3 separate regions of the Homo sapiens genome follow, and regions 1 and 3 are each linked to region 2. Evidence: fine-mapped QTL for protein levels in blood plasma. A gene starts in region 2. Each other region holds a variant in brackets. All regions are shown on one strand. Distances are from middle to middle.

Region 1 (8,197 bases), 23 kb after region 2:
AATTACTGAACATATATTTCTGAGTTCCTGCTGTTTCCAAGGTATTAATACAATAGTGCAGAAATCAAAGTTCCTACCCTCTTGGAGATTGCATTTGATGAGTTCCCATTTGTGTCAGGCCAACTTTCTTGCATTCTGTTTTTATTTTAAAAATAAATATGGTCTCAAAAAACAAACAAAAACAACAGCAACAAAATGGTCTCAGTTAATATTCCAACAGCCCTGGGAGATAAGTAGTATTATCTTGAGATGCCTTTTGTGAATTTTCAGCAACAACTAGAATTTTAAAAACAATCCATAGATATTTCCATAACGTACGTATATGAAAGGACACAGTGAACAATGATAAGAAAACTTAGGTTTTAAAAAGGTTAAGTACCTTATTAAAGGTAAAAGCTGGCCAGGCGTGGTAGCTCACGCCTGTAATCCCAAAACTTTGGGAGGCTGAGGCAGGCTGATCACTTGAGGTCAGGAGTTCGAGACAAGCCTGGCCAACATGGTGAAACCCTATCTCTACTAAAAATACAAAAATTAGCCAGGCATGGGGGCGGGTGCCTGTAATCCCAGCTACTTGGGAGGCCAAGACATGAGAATCACTTGAAACCAGGAGGCGGAGGTTGCAGTGAGCTGAGATCGTGCCACTGCACTCCAGCCTAGGTGACAGAGTGAGACTCTGTCTCAAAAAGAAAAATAAATAAATAAATAAAAATAAATAAATAAAGCAAAGCCAAAATTCAAAACTCAAACTTTATTTTGACTCCAGAGTTCCTTTTATACAATACCTTTTCCTCTGAAGTCATGCCCCAGCTGATATCACAGTCAAAATACATTTTAAAGGATGAGTGGGACAGAGGTGTAATGGGGAAAAGGTACTAGTCAAAACTTTTTAAAAAATAGGCTTTTATGGGTGTGGTGGCTCATGCCTGTAATCCCAGCAACTTGGGAGGCTGAGGCAGGAGAATTGCTTGAACCTGGGAGGTGGAGGTTGCGGTAAGCCAAGATCGCTCCATTGCACTCCAGCCTAGGCAACAAGAGTGAAGCTCCGTCTCAAAAAAAAAAAAAAAAAAAAAAAGTCTTTTTAGAGCAGTTTTAGTTTCGCAGCAAAATTGAGCAGAAAATACAAAAAGTTCCCACACACCCCTAGAGCCCCCTGCTCCACAAACAATCCCATTGTTAACATCCCACCGCACCCGGCCGGCTCTGTGTATTTGTCTTCACTTTTTTCCCCTGCTTCTTGGATTTGCTAACTTTATGGTTGCCTTATCTTCAAGTTTGTTGATCTTTTTTCTACCTACTCAAATCTGTTCTTGAATTCGTCTAATGAATTATCACCTCCATTATTGTAACTTTCAGCTCCAGAATTCCTGTTTGTGAATTTTTAATAATTTATTTCTTTCTATTGACATTCTCACTTCTTTCATATATCATTCTCATGATCTGCTTTAGTTCTTTGTCCATATTTTCCTTCATCTCACTGAACACATTGGAGACAGTTGATTTAATGTCTTTGACTAATAGTTTCAATGTGTGGGCTTCCCTAGTAACAGTATATGTTAAATCATGGTTTATTGTAAATGAGTTATACTTTCCTATGTCTTTATGCTTTGTAATTACAACTGGACATCCTGAGTATTATGATTCATAAGTCTGGAACTCCGATGCTCCAAGTCTTCATGGATTGCTGATTTCTGCTTACTGAAGGCTGAAACTATTCATTTCTGACTTTTCCCGACTGTTTTTTGGCAACTGTGTATCCTTTGGGTGTGATCACTGAAGTGTCTTTTCCATTTTGTGGTCAGTTAGTAACATGACAAAGATTTTACAAGGCATCGAACCTCTAAGTCTGAGGGATAC[G/C]AAGGGACTCAAGAGAGCCAAAACAAGCATCTTATTGGCTTCTCAGGAATTGCCAGACCTAGTAGAGTGCAAATTCCCCAAATTTTGGAGGCCAAGGTCTCAACTGCCTGCTCTGGCACTGGTCACCTGTTTGAGGAAAATGGACTGTCTCCAAATTGCCCCACTCGGACGGAGGAATGGGGAGTGGGGGCTGGTTTGTGAAGGCTGTTCTCTTTCTAAAGTCTCAGTCTCTCTTTTCATCAAGCACTCCTCTCATTATTATAAGTGCTGCAACAGGATGACTAGTTCTGAAATCATTGATTCTGTGTCTCCTGCCCCTCAGTTCACTGTTTATTTCACTGGAGGGAGGGGCTCCCAGAGCTTTCTACTCCGTCTTTTTGCTTGATCTCACTGTTTGCTGACTTTCTGAGATATGCCCAAACTCATATGGCTATTGGAAATTTCCACATTAAAAGTACTTCACCACATTGGGCAACATGGTGAAATCCTGTCTCTACAAAAAAGAAAAATACAAAAATTCCTTGGGTGAGGTGGCACACTCCCGTAGTCCCAGCTACTTGAGAGGCTGAGGTGGGAGAATCGCTTGAGACCGGGAGGCAGAGGTTGCAGTGAGCCGAGATCGCACTACTGCACTCCAGCCTGGGTGACAGAGTGAGGCTCTGTCTCAAAAAAAAAAAAAAAAAAAAAGGTACTTGACATGATAGTTTCCAATAAAAACATTTTAACCTAATTCCTTCATTTCACTCTTTAGCAATCAATATGTGAAAATTATATTGAACTGGTAAAAATGCAGGTTACAAAGATAAGATAAATATGAAATGCTATGATACACTTCTGACCACTGGAAGACATAAGAGAGAGTTGCAATGATTATATTTAATATTTTGGTTAGTAAACAGAGAGAACGCATCTACCCAGGGATTCAGTAGGGGTATGTGAAGATTTAATAAGGTAAGTAATCCTTAGTTTTTGAGAAACCAGAGATAGAAAATATGTTGGTGATTTTTTTTTTTTTTTGAGATGGAGTCTGGCTCTTTTCGCCCAAGCTGGACTGCAGTGGTGTGCTCTCAGCTCACTGTAACCTCTGCCTCCCGGGTTCATGCCATTCTCCTGCCTCAGCCTCCTGAGTAGCTGGGATTATGGGTGTGTACCACCACACCTGGCTAATTTTTTTTCTTTTTTGAGACGGAGTCTTGCTCTCTTGCCCAGGCTGGAGTGCAGTGGCGTGATCTCGGCTCACTGCAAGCTCCGTCTCCCAGGTTCATGCCATTCTCCTGCCTCAGCTTCCCGAGTAGCTGGGACTACAGGTGTCTGCCACCACGCCCGGCTAATTTTTTGTATTTTTAGTAGAGACGGGGTTTCACCGTGTTAGCCAGGATGGTCTCGATCTCCTGACCTCGTGATCCGCCCGCCTTGGCCTCCCAAAGTGCTGGGATTACAGGTGTGAGCCACCGCGCCCGGTCAATTTTTTTTTTTTAACTTTAAGTTCCGGGATACATGTGCAGAACATGCAGGTTTGTTACATAAGTATATGTGTGCCATGGCGGTTTGCTGCACCTGCTGACCCGTCCTCTAAGTTGCCTCCTCTCACTTCTCACCCCCCAACAGGCCCGATGTGTGACGTTCCCCTCCCTGTGTCCATGTGTTCTCATTGTTCAGCTCCCACTTATGAGTGAGAACATGCGGTGTTTGGTTTTCTGTTCCTGTGTTAGTTTGCTGAGGGTGATGGTTTCCAGCTTCATCCATGTCCCTGCAAAGGACACGATCTCTTTCCTTTTTATGACTGCGTAGTATTCCATGGTGTATAGGTACCACATTTTCTTTATCCAGTCTATCATCGATGGACATTTGGGTTGGTGCCATGACTTTGCTATTGTAAATAGTGCTGCAATAAACATATGGTGCGTGTGTCTTTATAGTAGAATAATTTATGTTCTCTTTTTTTTTTTTTTTTTGAGATGAAGTCTCAGTTTGTCACCCAGGCTGGAGTGCAGTGGCATAATCTTGGCCCACTGCAACCTCCAACTCCCGGGTTCAAGCAATTCTCCTGCCTCATCCTTCCGGGTAGCTGGGATTGCAGGTGCCCACCACCATGCCTGGCTAATTTTTGTATTTTTAGTAGAGATGATATTTCGCCACGTTGGACCAGGCTGGTCTCGAACTCCTGGCCTCAGGTGATCTGCTCACCTTGGCCTCTCAAAATGCTGGGATTACAGGCGTGAGCCGCCACACCCGGCCAGGATTGTTATTACTACTTTTAACCCATTTCCCATTTGCCCCGAGAATACTCTTGTCTCTAATCCCAATGTAACATCATATACATTTCTGCTACATTAGGATTAGAGACAAATTCTGTTCAGAAATAACTCCAAGAACAGTTTTTATATTTTATTTGCACATTGAAACTCAACCAGATTTGCTTCAGCCTCAACAAGTGTGTTTATGTAAAGTTAAATGAACTCTGGCAGTGAGCTGCACGTTTTTTAAAATTAGGAAATGAGTTAGCTAATATTGAACTTGAGGTTTTAGTCAATGCAATGAGACAAAAAGATTGAATAGGAAGAAATGAGTCATTATTTAGAGATTACTTCATTATGTATGTAGAAAATTCTAGGCCAGTCATTGTGGCTCACGCCTGTAACCCCAGCACTTTAGGAGGCCGAGGTGGGTGGATCATGAGGCCAGGAGATCGAGACTATCCTGGCTAACACGGTGAAACCCTGTCTCTACTAAAAATACAAAGAACTAGCCGCCTGTAGTCTCAGCTACTTGGGAGGCTGAGGCAGGAGAATGGCGTGAACCCAGGAGGTGGAGCTTACAGTGAGCCGAGATCACACCACTGCACTCCAGCCTGGGTGACAGAGTGAGACTCTGTCTCAAAAAAAAAAAAAAAAGAAAATTCTAAATAATCTACACATAGTTTTATTTTTACTTTTGAGATGGACTCACTGTGTCGCCCAGGCTGGAGTGCAGTGGTGCAATCTCGGCTCACTGCAACCTCTGCCTCCCAGGTTCAAGCAATTCTCCTCCCTCAACCTCCCAAGTAGCTGGGACAACAGGTGCTCACCACCACACCCAGCTAATTTTTTCTGTAGTTTTAGTAGAGATGTGGTTTTATCGTGTAGGCCAGGGTGGTCTCAAACTTCTGGTCTCAGGTGATCCACCCATCTCAGCCTTCCAAAGTACTTGGATTACAGGTGTGGGCCACCACGCCCAACCTACACATAGTTTTTTTTTTTTTTTTTTTTTTTTGAGACAGAGTTTTGCTCTGTTGCCCAGGCTGGAGTACAGTGGTATATCTTGGCTCACCACGACCTTCTCTTCCCGGGTTCAAGCAATTCTGTTGCCTCAGCCTCCTGAGTAGCTGGGATTACAGGCATGCACTACCACACCCGGCTAATTTTTGTATTCTTAGTAGAGATGAGGTTTCACCATGTTGCCCAGGCTGGTCTCAAACTCCTGACCTCAGGGGATCCGCCCACCTCAGCCTCCCAAAGTGCTGGGATTACAGGCATAAGCCACTGCGCCCGGCCTACACATAGTTTTAATATATTGATTTAGCAACAACACCGGAGGCAAAGCCAAAGTACAAAAATAAATCATATTTTTATATACCACTGTCAACTAGAAAAGACATGTAAAACTATGTCATTTACAAACTCAACAAAAATATATCAAATACCTGGGACTACATCTAATGGAAGCACTATATAAATTCTACACCAAAAACCATAAAATGTTACTGAGAAAATTAAAGAAAGCTTAAATAAATAGAAGGATATACCATGGCCAAGAGGTTGGAACATTTAATACCATGAAGACACCAATTCTACACCAATATCTATTGATCTATAGATTCAATGCAATCCCAGTCAATACCTCAGCAGGAAGTATACGTGTGTGTGTGTGTATGTGTGTGCGCGTGAGAGAGAGAGAGGAGAGAGAGAGAGAGAGACTGATTCTAATAAAAACACAGGGAAATGCAAAGAACTAAGAAAGACAAGATGATCTGTAAAAAGAACAGAATGGAGAGACTCTACTATATATTGAGTCTTATTAAAAGGCTACAGCAAGTTAAACAGTGTGGTATTAGTGCCATCAGGGACTACAATCCAGTGGGATTATAAAAATAATTGCTTGGCCGGGTGCAGTGGCTCATGCCTGTAATCCCAGCACTTTGGGAGGCTGAGGCGGGCGGATCACGAGGTCAGGAGATCGAGACCATCCTGGCTAACACGGTGAAACCCCGTCTCTACTAAAAATACAAAAAATTAGCCGGGCATGGTGGCGGGCGCCTGTAGTCCCAGCTACTTGGGAGGCTGAGGCAGGAGAATGGCATGAACCTGGGAGACGGAGCTTGCAGTGAGCCGAGATCATGCCACTGCACTCCAGCCTGGGCGACAGAGCAAGACTCCTTCTCAAAAAAAAAAAAAAAAAAAAAAAAAAAAATTAGCTGGGCGTGGTGGTGTGCACCTGTAATCCCAGCTACTCAGGAGGCTGAGGCAGGAGAATCACTTCAACCTGGGAGGCAGAGGTTACAGTGAGCTGAGATCGTGCCACTGTACTCCAGCCTGGGCAACAGAGCGAGACTCTGTCACAAAAAAAAAAAAATTCTGTAAGGCAAAAAGAAAAAGACAACCTACTTTTAAAAGATATAAAAGATGTGAAGCAACACTTCACATAAAATAATATACAAGTGGACAATACTAGAGAGCATATTTAGCTACATTACTCCAAAAAAAAGTAAAACCACGTGGAATCCCCCTTATTCAACAGTGGAAATTGGCAAGACTGGGCATGACTCTGAGAGTGAGTCAACAATGTGGCAGGATATGTTTCGAACCTTTATCCTTTCACAGAAACATTCATTTCAATAATCTTCTGTGCAGAAAAATACTTTCACAAGAGTCAAAGAATCAGCTGAGAGACCACAGAACTTGAATGGAAAATAACGGTAAGAAAAGATAGGCCGAGCATGGTGGCTCACGCCTGTAATTCCAGCACTTTTGGAGGCCGAGGTGGGTGGATCACCTGAGGTCAGGAGTTCCAACCAGCCTGATGAACATGGAGAAACCCCATCTCTACTAAAAATACAAAAAAAAAATTAGCCAGACGTGGTGGACGCACCTGTAATCCCAGGTACTCAGGAGGCTGGGGCAGAAGAATGTCTTGAACCGGGAGGCAGAGGTTGCGGTGAGCCGAGATCGCGCCATTGCACTCCAACCTGGGCGACAGAGCGAGACTCCATCTCAAAAAAAAAAAAAAAAAAAAAAAGGCAAAAAGAAAGAAAAACAAGAAAAAGAAAAGAAAAGATGTACTGAAGATGGTAGGAAAGAGTTTCACTTGATCTGCATCATCCCCTTCCTGAACCCAAGGCAGCACAGAGAGAGAAACCCACTTCATGGGGGATGGAGAGTAAAGTGAGTTCCTGGCTGCACTGCAGACCTGAGCCCGAGTTCCACTTTAGCGAACACGGATACAGGCTGTCCAGAGAAAAGCAAGTGGAAACTACAGAAACTGTTGTAGAACTTTTACTTGCTGGTCTGGTCTTGGTTGTATCCATCTTTGGCCAGTCACATATGTACTCAAGAAACCTTCCCAATAGAGTACAACAGGATGAGACTCTGAAATCCCTTTCAATATTCCCTGCTAGATATTGATTGTTATATCAAGCATTAAGTGTAAACTTTTAATGGACAATTAGTGTAACTGTGGATGGCATCTGCTTTTGTTTTTAATTCTGTGGATTGTGTTTAAGCAATTCAATAGTATGTTCCTGATTTTGAGATGCTAAGTGGTATTGCACAGATGTCATTTTATCCAGCATGTGCAACAGTCCCATGAAGTTTATAGAGCATACCCTTGTATAGCTTCAGGTGCTAGAATTAAAATTGATCTGTTATCACACACACACACACACACACACACACACACACGCAATCATTCATGTGGACTCAAACTCCAGTTCCATCCCAGGGGATCCAGGCACCAGGTCAGCCCCTGTGGAACCAGGTGCCAAGCCTCCTCTCTTGCTGAAATAGGCACCAGGCAATCCCTCTCAAGGACTCCAGCGAGAAGTCCACCAGCAACTCCCCACCAAACAGGCTGCCTAGAATCTCTAGATAGGCTGACTGGCAAAGTGCTTTTCCTGCTAAAGCCAGTATGTAAAGAACTGACTACTTCAAATGCACAGACACTAATGCAAGGCCATAAGGATCATGAATAATCAGAGAAACATGACATCACCAAAAGAACAAAATAAAGTATGAGAAACTGACACAAAAGAAGTGGACATCAACGAACTCCAGATGAAAAATTCAAAATAATCATCTTAAAGAAGCTC
Region 2 (8,172 bases):
CCGTCGTGGAGGAGCAGATGGCCAGCGTCACCTGGATGTGTACCATGTAGATGCCATCACGATGGATACGTAGCTGCCCCTTGTCCAGCTCTGGTCCATGCAGGAAGGAGCGGCCCAGTGCTGGGCCCCCCTGCCAGTATAGCCTGGGGTCCTGCTGAGGTCCTGGGGGCACAGGGTTAGAGGGATGAGAGGATGGAGGTTTAGGGAAACTGAGGCACAGGGGGTCATAGAGAAAGTCAGATATAGAGATCGAGAGTTAGAGATCAAGGAATAGGTTGGACGTGGTGGCTCATGCCTGAAATCCTAACAGTTTAGGAGGCCAAGGCGGGTGGATCACCTGAGGTCAGCAGTTCAAGACCAGCCTGGACAACAGGGCGAGACCCCATCTCTACAAAAAATAAAAAGTCAGCCAGGTGTGGTGGTGCACGCCTCTGGTCCTGGCTACTCTTGGGAGGCTGAGGCTGGAGGATCGCTTGAGCCTGGGAGGCTGAGACTGCAGTGAGCTATGATCACACCACTGCACTCCAGCCTTGGTCACAGAAACCCTGTCTCAAAAAAAAGGGAGGGGGATAGAAGGTTAGAGATCTAAAGGGAAGGAGAGAGGGGTAAGGGGAAAGGGGTAGAGACAGGGAGAGAGAGACACCAGGAGAGAGAGAGACAAAAAAAAAAAAAAAAAAAACAGAAACAGACAAGGGTAAAGATAGAGGGGGAGGGAGAGATATATAGAGAGAGAATGCAGAGAGAGAGCAAGAGAGAGAGTGTATGTGTGAGAGAGGACGAGAGTGCACGAGAGAGTGCGACAGAGAGCATGAGAGAGAGAGCATGAGAGAGCGAGAGAGTGTGTGAGAGGACGAGAGAGCTTGAGGGAGAGTGCACGAGAGAGTGCGAGAGAGCACGAGAGAGCAGGAGAGAGTGCAAGAGACAGCATGAGAGAGAGAGAGATCATGAGGGAGAGAGAGCATGAGACAGCGAGAGAGTGTGAGAGAGAGGACGAGAGAGCTTGAGGGAGAGTGCACGAGAGAGTGAGAGAGAGCACGAGAGAGCAGGAGAGAGTACGAGAGACAGCATGAGAGAGAGAGCAAGAGAGAGAGTGTGTGTGTGAGAGAGGACGAGAGAGCTTGAGAGAGAGTGCACGAGACAGAGTGTGAGAGTGAGCTCGAGAGAGTGCATGGGAGAGTGTGTGTGTGAGAGAGGATGAGAGCTACAGAGCTCGAGAGTGCACGGGAGTGAGCGAGAGAGTGCCTGAGAGAGTGAGACAGACAGCACGAGAGAGACAGCGTGCGCACGAGACAGCGCGCAAGAGAGTGCACGAGAGAATTCCCCAAGGGACGCCTGCTCGGGTCACACCCTGAACGCCAATAAAAGCTTTGGCTCCCAGGACCCTTTTTTTTTCTTGCTTTCCACCCGCTGGTTGAGTGTGTGTCTCAGAGAGCTCCCCTACCTTCCCGTTGGCCCTCTTCTCTCTAGGATCTTTATTTTCTTTAGAGACAGGGTCTGGTCCTGTCACCCAGGCTGGAGTGCAGTGGTGCAATCATAGCTCACTGCAGCCTCAGCCTCTGGGGCTCAAGCTATCTCCCACCTCAGCCTCCCGAGTCACTGGGAGGTGGCATGCGCCACCATGACCAGCTAATTTTCAAAATTTTGTTCTAGAGATGGTGGTCTTGCTATGTTTCCCAAGAAACATAGTCTAGAACTCCTGGGCTCAAGCGATCCTCCCACCTCAGCCTCCCAAAGCGCTGGGATCACAGCCGGGAGCCAAGGTCCTCGGCTATATTTCACGTGTTTCATCTCAGCGTCTCCTGTCTCCGCAACTTATCTGACTGACACACCTGAGCCTCACTCTCCTCCTCACTCAAGGCTCTCCTGGAGACTGGCTATCTTGTTAGGAAGGAACTGAACGGGGTCAAACAGGAGCCCCAAGGGTGTTTACCAGGCTTTGCAAATTTCCTGTAAGAGTGACACCTGGTCCCCTGTCACACACTTAGGCATGATATCATCCACCAGAAGAAAGAGCTGTCCTGTGAAAGACACTGTCAACACCTGTGGCCACCACCCCTGGTGCCCCATCGATGTGGGGCTGGACAGCCACTCTCCAGAAAGGGGCCTCAAGACCAAATTACAGGAAAAATATGGCAAAGGCCGGGGAGGGGGGGAAGATATATCAGGGGTCAGAGACCCAAGGAGAAGAGAGAGCAACAAAGGTCCCTTCCATTACAAAATGGAAGGAACAAAACACGCAAGCGTGCAGTAATTTTAGTCTCTGGGGATGAACCGTGGAAAAACAGAAGAGGAAGAAGCGTTCGAGAGAGGCTGGGAGGAGGTAGAGACTTCCACCTAGAGCAGAACTGTTCATTTCTTCTCCCTCAAGGCTTCTTGCCAATGCCACCCACTCAGATACCACCCCCCCACCCGACCGCCGCGACTCCACTTTAAATGAAAATCCCCAACCCTGGCATGCCCGGATTCCCCACCCACCTCCTTGCCTGATTTTTTCTCTAAAACCTGCTCTTGGCCTGTTTTACTCTACGTGGCATTGCTCTGTTTTTCACATGTTCGTTTTTATTTTTTTGGTCATCTCCTCCTCGGTAGGAGTGATAGTAGAAGGGAAGCTCACCAGGCAGGGATTTCTGTCTGTTTTGTGCGCGACTGCAGTACCGGAACAGTGCCTGCCCACTGCAGATGTATAATTAGTGCTTGTAGCATGAATGGAGGAAGGGTAGCCTTTCCTGTGAGCGTTTTCGTTTACTAACAAAACCCCTTTGATTCTTCCAAGGGAGGAGATCGAATGTGAAGGACTGAGAGGGAAAGGGAGAGAAAGGTAGTGGATGCCCAGAAACACAAACCTGCTCGCTCTCTCTCTCCTCTCTCTCTCTCTCGTTCTCTCCCTTTTCCTTTTTCTCTTGGGAATGATCTCTTTCTCCCCCGCCCTGTTTTTCTTCTTCCCCCTCTCTGTCTCTGTCTCTTCCTCTCTGTTATTCTCCTTCTCTTTTCCTCTCTCTGGCTTTCTTTCTTTTCTTTCTCTTATTTCTTTTTTTCTCTTTCTTCTTTCTTTTTCCTTTCTCTCTCTCTCACCTCCCTCCCTCTCTCCTTCCTTCCTTCTTCTCTTTCTTTTCCTTCCTTCCTTTCTTTCTTTTTCTTTTCCTTTCTTCTTTTTATTTATTTATTTGACAGAATCTCCCTCTGTCACCCAGGCTGGAGAGCAGTGCCATTATCTTGGCTCACTGCAACTTCTGCCTCCCAGGTTCAGGCGATTCTCCTGCCTCGGCCTCCTGAGTAGCTGGGATTACAGGTGCCTGCCACCACACCCGGCTAATTTTTGTAATTTTAGTAGAGACGGGGTTTCACCATGTTGGCCAGGCTGGTCTCAAACTCCTGGGCTCAAGTGATCCACCCGCCGCGCCCTCCGAAAGCGCTGGGATTACAGGCTCCAGCAACCACGCCAGGTCGCCTCTCTCGTTTTTATTCTCTCTTCCTCTATCTGTCTTTTTTCTCTTTCTCCGTCTCTCTCCCTCTCTCTCGTTCTGTCTCCCCCGCCTGTCTCCCTCCCTCCCTCTTCCACTCTCCCTGCGTCTCTCCCTGTTTCTTTCTTTCCCCTTCTTCTCCTGTCCCGTCTGTCCCCTCTGTCCCTCTCTCTGTTCTTTTTTCTGTCTCTCCCTCCCTTTCTCTGGGCCTCTCCCTCCCTCTCTGTCTTCTCTCTGTCTCCCCCTCTCCGTTTCCCTCCCTATCTCTCCCTCCCTCTCTCCCTCCGTCTCTGTCTGTGTCTCTTTCTCTCTGTCTCTCCCCACTTGTCTTTCTACCTCTCCTTCCTTCTCTCTCTGTGCCTCTTCTTCTCCCCGTCCCTCCACGTCCCCCGTGTTACCTGTGTGATTCAGCTGCAGCTCAGCTACGTCCCACTGGAAGAAAAGACCAGAAAACAGGGCACGGACGTAAGCAGAGAGGTTCTATGTGTCCCCTGTGCCAGGAGCTCTCTTTTCTCTGTCCATCCTCCTTTCCACCTCTCATCCCACGGCGCGCACTGGTGATTTTATTTCATTTTATTTTTTTTTACTCTTAAGACTTCTTAAAGAGGAAGCAGGTCTGAACCAGCGGGGAACGTGAAGTCGAGACCTTCAAAAGAACTTCTTCGTTTCCCGAATCGTTTTCCTGGATGTCACTGGGCGCGAGAGCACCGCGCGCAGCGGACTCTCTACGCTGCAAAGGCGCCCGGCGCGGTCCCCAAAGGGACCCCTCCCCCACCCGGAGCGAGTGGCTGGGGCCATCCCGTCCTAGGAGGCCCCAGGAAGCCCCCACGCCCAGCCTTGTGAAGCCCCCAGCAGCCTCTGAGTCAGCCTGCCGGGGGAACACCAGAGCCGAGTCATCTTCCATTTCCATGTGTGCCTACCTTTCCCATCCCGGGATCTCCCTGTACCTCCTGGCAGGGCTGCCTGTCTCGTAGCCCCTACACCGGGCAGCCTGGTCCCCGCCTCGCCTCCCTGTTCTGGTCTCTGTCTCTGCCCTACCAGATCTTCCTCTCTGGCCTCTTTGTACCCATCTCATTCTGTCTTTTCGGTCACGCGCCTCTCTATGTTTTCTTCCCAACTTTTCCATCTCAACTCACCCCAAGTGACTCGAGCGGCAGCTGCTGCTGAGCCTGTGCGAAGCGCTGGATGCACACCACGAGGCAGATCACCAAGCCCGCGACCAATGGGACCAAAGCAGCCCGCAGGACGCACCCATAGGGCCTGCGCCGCACCGAGCAGCCCGAACCCTCCTCCGGCATCGCCGCGGCGATCACCTCCGCTAGCGCAGGAGGGGCGATGGGGGCGCGGAGCGCTGCCGAGAAGGAAGGAAGGAAACTGCAGCCCCCTCCCGGGGCTCCTGGGCGTCTACTTGCTTCAACCTGTCAGGGGACCAGCCTGCCCCTCTCTGGGGATGTCCGGCCGGTCGAGGGGAGGGACTTGAGCAATTGGCGAGGGGAAATTCCCTCCAACCGCTGCCAGTCTGAAGATCCTAAAGTGGGTGGAGGCAGTTGCCAGGATGCAGGCAGTGGCCCCGGGTGAGCCTCAGAGTTGCCTGCCCCCAACCCCTCCCCGCCCGACCTTCAGGCAGGAGACATTCAATCTTCCTATTCCCCTCTCCACCTCATTCTTCTGGGGCCCATTCATTTATTCAACAAACCTCCACTGCACATTTATTAGGGATTAGATTGTGCTGTGCACTGGGGATACAGCAGACATCCAAGAATTGGGGGTGCTCCCCAAATATTCGTGTACCCCTCTCCTGCATTTTTTTGATTTGTTTTGTTTTTGAGACGGAGGTCTCCCTCTGTCACCCAGGCTGGAGTGCAGTGGCGCCATCTCAGCTCGCCGCAACCTCGATCTCCTGGGTTCAAGCGATTCTCCTGTCTGAGCCTCGCGAGTAGCTGGGAGTAACATGCGCGCGCCACCATGCCTGGCTAATTTTTTGTATTTTTAGTAGAGATGGGGTTTCACCATGTTGGCCAGGCTGGACTTGAACTCCTGACCTTGGGTGATCCACCCGCCTTGGCCTTCCAAAGTGCTGGGATTAAAGGCATGAGACACTGCACCCGGTCAGTTATCTCCTGCATTCTTGGAGACCACCTGCTTTTTTGTTTAAAGTTAAATTAAGTTAATATTTTTATTTTTTATTTTTATTTTATTTTATTATTTATTTTTTTTTTTTTTGAGACAGAGTCTCGCTCTGTCGCCCAGGCTGGAGTGCAGTGGCGCCATCTCGGCTCACTGCAAGCTCCGCCTCCCGGGTTCACGCCATTCTCCTGCCTCAGCCTCTCAAGTAGCTGGGACTACAGGCGCCCGCCACCACGCCCGGCTAACTTTTTGTATTTTTAGTAGAGATGGGTTTTCACCATGTTAGCGAGGATGGTCTCCATCTCCTGACCTCGTGATCTGCCCGCCTTGGCCTCCCAAAGTGCTGGGATTACAGGCGTGAGCCGCCGCGCCCGGCCTAAATTAATATTTTTAGAGACAGAGTGTTGCTCTGTTGCCCAGGCTGGATGCAGTGGCGCCACACAGCTCACAGCAGCCTCAAACTCCTGGGCTTCAGTGACCCTCCCATCTCAGCCTTTTGCATAGTTGGGTCTACCAGCACACGCTACCATGCCCGGCTAATTTTTTTTTTGGGGGGGGTAGAGGATAGGGTGTTACTATGTTACCAGGCTGGTCTCAAACATCTGGGCTCAAGCGATCCTGCTGCGTAGGTCCCCCAAAGTGCCGGGATGACAGGTGTGAGCCACCGCATCCAGCCTCCTGCTGCTGTTCTCGATGGCTGTAGTGGGTTAACGGTGTCCTCCCAGAATTCATGGCCTCCTGGAACTGCAGAATATGACCTCATTTTGAAATTACGGGGTTTTTTTTGCAGATATAATTAGGCTTAAATGAGGTCATACTGGATTAGAGTGGGCCCTCAGGTGGAGAGAAAAGAGGCTCATAGAGAAGGAGCCGTGTGAAAACAGAAACAGAAACTGAATGAGGCAGATGAAAGTCAAGAAACACCAAGAAGGAGCCAGGCGCAGTGGCTCACGCCTGTAATCCCAGCACTTTGGGAGGCTGAGGCAGGCGGATCACTTGATATCAGGAGTTTGAGACCCTCCTGGCTAACACGGTGAAACCCCCGTCTCTACTAAAAATACAAAAAATTAGCCGGGCATGGTGGCGGGCGCCTGTAGTCCCAGCTACTCAGGAGGCTGAGGCAGGAGAATGGCGTGAACCCGGGAGGTGGAGCTTGCAGTGAGCCGAGATCACGCCACTGAACTCCAGCCTGGGTGACAGAGTGAGACTCCGTCTCAAAAAAAAAAAAAAAAGAGTTGGAGACCAGCCTGGCCAACATGGTGGAACCCCATCTCTACTAAAAATTCAAAAAATAGCTGGGTGTGGTGGTGGGCACCTTTAATCCCAGCTACTCAGGAAGCTGAGGCAGGAGAATCGCTCAAACCCGGGAGGCAGAGGTTGCAGTGAGCCGAGATCACACCATTGCACTCCAGCCTGGGTGACAGAGCGAGACTCTGTCTTAAAAATATATATATTTTTTAAAAAGAGGATCCAGCCTCTTTTTCCGGCTGGAACCATGGAGGGTGTAGAAGAGAAGAAGAAGGAAGTTCCCGCTGTGCCAGAAACCCCTAAGAAAAAGCGAAGGAATTTCACAGAGCTGAAGACCAAGCGCCTGAGAAAGAAGTTTGCCCAAAAGATGCTTCGAAAGGCAAGGAGGAAGCTTATCTATGAAAAATTGAAGCACTATCACAAGGAATATAGGCAGAGGTACAGAACTGAAATTCGAATGGAAAAGATGTCAAGAAAAGCTGGCAACTTCTATGAACCTGCAGAATCCAGACTGGCGTTTGTCATCAGGATCAGAGGTATCGATGGTGTGAGCCCAAAGGTCCGAAATGTGTTGCAGCTTCTTTGCCTTTGTCAAATCTTCAATGGAACCTTTGTGAAGGCCAATTAACATGCTGAGGATTGTAGAGCCATACATTGCATGCGGGTACCTAAATCTGAAGTCAGTAAATAAACTAATCTACAAGCGTGGTTATGGCAAAATCAATAAGAAACGAATTGCTTTGACAGATAACGCTTTGCACGATCTCTTGGAAAATATGGCATCATCTGTATGGAGGATGTGATTCATGAGGTCCATACTGTTGGAAAACGCTTCAAAGAAGCACATAACTTCCTGTGGTCCTTCAAAGTATCTTCTCCATGAGGCAGAATGAAGAAACAGACCACCCATTTCGTGGAAGGTGGAGATGCTGGCAACAGGGAGGACCAGATCAACAGGCTTGTTAGAAGAATGAACTATGGTGTGTACTATAATTATTTTTCTAAGCTGTTCAATAAACATTACCTGCTCTCAAATGGAAAGAAAAATATGTCTGTATATACATACAGTTAGGGTCCCAAGGGCCTCTGGCTATGAATCATCAAGAAGTCAGTGTCATCAGCAGCAAACTCACAGCCAACAGCGCTAGAACTCGTGCCTGGGGATAGCTTCTCTAACACGTGGATTTCCTCCTCTGTGAGGCTCATCACGGCCTCCTTGCTCTTGGGGGACATTAGACAGGGCTTCAGCACTATTTGGGGGCTGTTTGAAACAGCAAAATTACCAACAAAAAGCAAAAAATTGAAAGGAGATAAAAATGGGAGATTTCAGAGCCTG
Region 3 (4,557 bases), 16 kb after region 2:
GTAACAGAATTTTGTGCCTCAAGTGCAAATTTCAAGGGGGCATCTCAAACTGTCATTGTCAAAATAAATGATATTCTCAGGCAACATTTTAAAAAAAATCTAAAAAGTGAAGGTCAAAAAAATTCATGATGAACAAATTGCAAAGATGTTTTAAAGATCAGATCCAACCCTACACTTCTACAATCTGCTTCATTTTTTTCCACCTTCATTCTGGTCTTGCAGCCCAAATTTGCATTCTGGCTCCAACACTTACCAGCTGTGTGACCTGCAGCAAGTGATTTAACCTCTCTGTGCCTCAGTTCCCTGGAAGTAATAAAAGTATCTCACAGGCTTGCTATGAGGTTGGAAGGAATTAATATTTGTAAACTGTTTAGCAAAGAGCCAGTACGTAGTAAGGAACTGGTGAGAACTATTACTATCATTGCTACTACTGAAACGGCCTCCTTGTCTGGAGTAACACCCGAGGTTCACAGTCTCACAGCCAAGGAAAACAAGGACATAGACATAGAAAGAGTGAGGTCGAGAATGGAAGTTTCATAGGCGAAAGAAAGAGGAGAGCTCTCTGCTGCAGAGAGGGGTCCCGGAAAAATGGGTTGCCGTATCAGCGGGGAAATGTAGGGGGTTTTATAGAGAAGCTAGTGAGCAAACGGTGTTTGATTTATATAGGGTGTGAAAAACTGGTTAGACCATGTGTCGCATTTGCATAGGGTGCAAATTTCTGGTAGCCTCTGACCCTAATCTTTTATTATGCAGGCAGGTTCTCTGCCCGAGCTGCGCCATGTTGCCCATTTCTGTTACTGCACGCGTGGTAACATAAAAGGGAAGAGGAAGCGTCCATGTAGGGCCTGCCTGGCCCCTGGGTAGCTCTCTTCTATTGGCGCACCTGCCGGCATTCTCCCGTGTAAGCTTCCAGCTGTGCCTATCTATGTTTGCAGCTCAATTTTTCAGGCTGCTGCTTGTTAGAAAAGAAATGATTTGGGGGCTGCTTTTTGTTAGAAGGGAAGCTCTGCCGAGGACTCTGCTGCCTTCACTATCTGCCTAAATAATTTCTTTCTACCTCCTGTATCACTACGACTGTTGCTATTATTAATCTGAGAAAGAGACTCACTCTGTTGCCCAGGCTGGAGTGCAGTGGCCTGGGCTCACTGCAACCTCCGCCTCCCAGGGTCAAGTGATTCTCATGCCTCAGCCTCCCAAGTAGCTGGGACTACAGGAGCCTGCCATTATGCCCAGCTAATTTTTTTGTATTTTTAGTAGAGACAGGGTTTCACCATGTTGGCCAGGCTGGTCTCAAACTCCTGACCTCAAATAATGTGCCCGCCTTGGCCTCCCACAGTGCTGGGATTACAGGTGTGAGCTACTGCGCCCGGCCTCTTATTATTATTTATTTATTATTATTACTGCTTTTGGAGACAGGGTCTTACTCTGTCGCCCAGGCTGGAGAGCAGTGGTGCAATCATAGCTCCCTGCAGCCTCCAGTTCCTGGGCTTGAGTGATCCTCCTGTCTCAGCTTCCTGAGAAGGTGGGACTACAGGCATGCACCACCACACTCAGCTATTTTTTTTTTTTGAGTTGGAGTCTTGCTATGTTGCCCAGGCTAGAGTGCAGTGGTGCAATGTCGGCTCACTGCCAGCTCCGCCTCCCGGGTTCACGCCGTTCTCCTGCCTCAGCCTTCCGAGTAGCTGGAACCACAGGTGCCCGCCACCTCGCCCGGCTAATTTTTTTGTGTTTTTAGTAGAGACGGGGTTTCACTGTGTTAGCCAGGATGGTCTCGATCTCCTGACCTCGTGATCCGCCTGCCTTGGCCTCTCAAAGTGCTGGGATTATAGGCGTGAGCCACCGCGCCCGGCCTCACATTCAGCTAATTTTAAAAGTTTTTGGAGAGATGGGCTCTTGCTATGTTGCTCAGGCTGGTCCTGAACTCTTGGCCTCAAGTGATACTCCCACCTTGGCCTTCCAAATTGTTGGGATTCCAGGCGTGAGCCACCACCCCTGGCCAGACTTTACACAATAAAGGTGTATTTAGGGCTGCTCTGCCTATGGAGTGGCCATTCTTTACTCCTTTACTTTCTGTTTTGTGTTTGTTTGTTTGTTTGTTTGTTTGAGACGGAGTTTTGCTCTTGTTGCCCAGGCTGGAGTTCAATGGCGCGATCTCAGCTCACTGCAACCTTTGCCTCCTGGGCTCAAGTGATTCTCCTGCCTCAGCCACCAGAGTAGCAGAGATTACAGGTGCCTGCCACCACACCCGGCTAATTGTTTGTATTTTTAGTAGACATGGGGTTTCACCATTTTGGCCAGGCTGGTCTCGATCTCCTGACCTCAGGTGATCTGCCCCCCTTGGCCTCCCAAAGTGCTGGGATTACAGCTGTGAGGCTAACACTCCTGGCCTATTCCTTTACTTTCTTACTAAACTTATTTCACTTAAAAAAAAAGTTTATTTTCTACTCACACAACATTCAGATCAGCAAGGGGTTCTGCCCATGGTAGGCTGAAATAGGCTTCTTCCTTTTTTTTTTTTTTTTTTGTTGAGACAGGGCCTCACTCTGTTGTTCAGGGTGCAGAGCCGTAGCACAATCTCGGCTTAATGCAACTTCTGCTTCCTGGGTTCAAGTAATCCTCCTATTTAGTCCCCCAAATAGCTGGGACCACAGGTGCACGGCACCATGCCCGACTA[AT/A]TTTTTTTTTTTCATTTTCAACAAGTGTTTTGTCACCAAACATTAAAAACCTACACAAAATACAGGCCAGGTACAGTGGCTCACGCCTGTAATCCCAGAACTTTGGGAGTCCGAGGCGGGCAGATCACCTGAGGTCAGGAGTTCGAGACCAGCCTGGCCAACATGGTGAAACTCCCTCTCTACTAAAAATTCAAAAATTAGCCAGGCGTGGTCATGTGCAATTGCAGTCCCAGCTACTCAGGAGGCTGAGGCTTGAGAATTGCTTGGACCTGGGAGGCGGAGGTTGCAATGAGCTGAGATCATGCCACTGCACTCCAGCCTGGGTGACGAGAGCCAGACTTCATCTCAAAAAACAAAAATATATACAGAATACAAAGATAGTATAATAGACTTGTCACCCAGGTTGAACAGCTACTAGTCATGCCATGTTTGCTTCATCTATACTTTGACCCATTTCCTACCCCCCAATTTATTAGTTTTTTGGGTTTTCTTTTTAGATAAAATGTATACATATTGAAAGGTACAATCTGAACTGTACCATTTTGACAAATTAATACACTCATATAGACTTCCCCCCTTTAAAGAATAGAATTACTCCACTTACTAATCATTAATGTACATATAAGTTACGTCGAAGTAGTATTTACAATCCAAATTTTTATAAAATAGGTCAGAGTTTTGACTGAGAATTTTTTTTTTTTTTTGAGACCGAGTCTTGCCCTGTTGCCCAGGCTGGAGTGCAGTGGTGCAATCTTGGCTCACCGCAACCTCTGCCTCCCAGGTTCAAGCGATTCTCCTGCCTCAGCCTCCCGAGTAGCTGGGATTACAGGCTTGCGCCACCTCGCCTGTCTAATTTTTTGTGTTTTTAGTAGAGATGGGGTTTTGCCATCTTTGCCAGGTTGGTCTTGAACTCCTGACCTTCTGATCCACCCACCTCAGCCTCCCAAACTGCTGGGATTACACGCGTGAGCCACCGCGCCTGGCCGAGAATTTTTATTTTTAAAAAAGTAGAGATCTGTAGAGCACACAGTAACTACAATGTCTATTTATCTCAAGTAAATACAGTTTGATGAATAAAATTAAGGAAAATTCACCTAAGATGAAAAAAAAACAATCAAACCATCTGTGCAATATGCTATCTGTAGGAGCATTTGGTTAAGAATAACAAACTAACCCAACAATTTTATTATTTTAATAACCAAAATTGGCACAAATTTCTACTATTGTTTTCATAGAAATGCTCCCTCACAATAAAAAAATTTTCATATCATGAGAGCAAAAACAGCAAATATTTGAAAAAGTAGATGTCTTATAAAATTAAGTAGCAAAGGCCAGGCGCAGTGGCTCATGCCAGTAATCCCAGCACTTCGGGAGGCCGAGGCGGGAGGATCACCTGAGGTCAGGGGTTCGAGACTAGCCTGGCCAACATGGTGAAACCATATCTCTACTAAAAATTCCAAAATTAGCCAGACGTGGTGGCGGGCAGGAGAATCGCTTGAATCTGGGAGACAGAGGTTGCAGTGAGCCGAGATCTTGCCACTGTACTCTAGTTTGGGTGACAAGAGCAAAACTCCATCTCAAAAAAAAAAAAGAAAAATCACAGTTACCTATAATTCGATCATTCAATCAATCATCAGATAACTCAGCTCATTCAATTATCTGCAAGTGTAGATAATTCTCATAGCTTCCTATTAAAATTATGTTTTATGCCCTTACAAATTTTAACTTAGTTTTTCTTTTATTTATTTATTAGTAGGAGTCTCACTCTGTCGCCCAGGCTGGAGTGCAGTGGCACAATCTTGGCTCTCTGCAACCTCCACCTCCTGGGTTCATGCAATTCTCCTGCCTCAGCCTCCTGAGTAGCTGACATTACAGGCATGAG

Alleles and levels. Positions count from the first base shown, and alleles are read on the strand shown. Strength reflects both the effect of a copy and how common the allele is. Not every link is listed here.
With allele A in place of AT in region 3, the plasma level of the protein whose gene starts at base 4,907 in region 2 is higher (weak association).

Evidence for each region. PIP is the chance, under the fine-mapping model, that this variant and not a neighbour inherited with it causes the effect. Protein levels are from antibody-based Olink assays in UK Biobank. Linkage for the fine-mapping came from a reference panel and not from the study's own genotypes, which makes the PIPs less certain.
Region 1: its variant is fine-mapped to the plasma level of the CD70 protein (UK Biobank, PIP above 0.99).
Region 3: its variant is fine-mapped to the plasma level of the CD70 protein (UK Biobank, PIP above 0.99).

Annotation. Positions count from the first base shown.
Region 1 is chr19:6,609,471-6,617,667 of GRCh38, forward strand. No RefSeq gene overlaps it. Among named protein-coding and RNA genes, the nearest start is that of CD70, 22 kb to the left of the region's middle. RefSeq lists an enhancer at 6,508-6,727. The variant G/C (reference allele first, on the strand shown) is at 1,855.
Region 2 is chr19:6,586,244-6,594,415 of GRCh38, forward strand. It overlaps CD70 (CD70 molecule), which reads right to left and starts at 4,907. Exons shown (of 3, transcript NM_001252.5): 1 at 4,598-4,907; 2 at 3,860-3,893; 3 at 1-162. The coding sequence starts at 4,759. It also overlaps the pseudogene RPL7P50. RefSeq lists enhancers at 1-224, 225-977, 2,079-2,258, 2,549-2,628, 3,807-4,176 and 3 more.
Region 3 is chr19:6,604,279-6,608,835 of GRCh38, forward strand. No RefSeq gene overlaps it. Among named protein-coding and RNA genes, the nearest start is that of CD70, 15 kb to the left of the region's middle. The variant AT/A (reference allele first, on the strand shown) is at 2,675.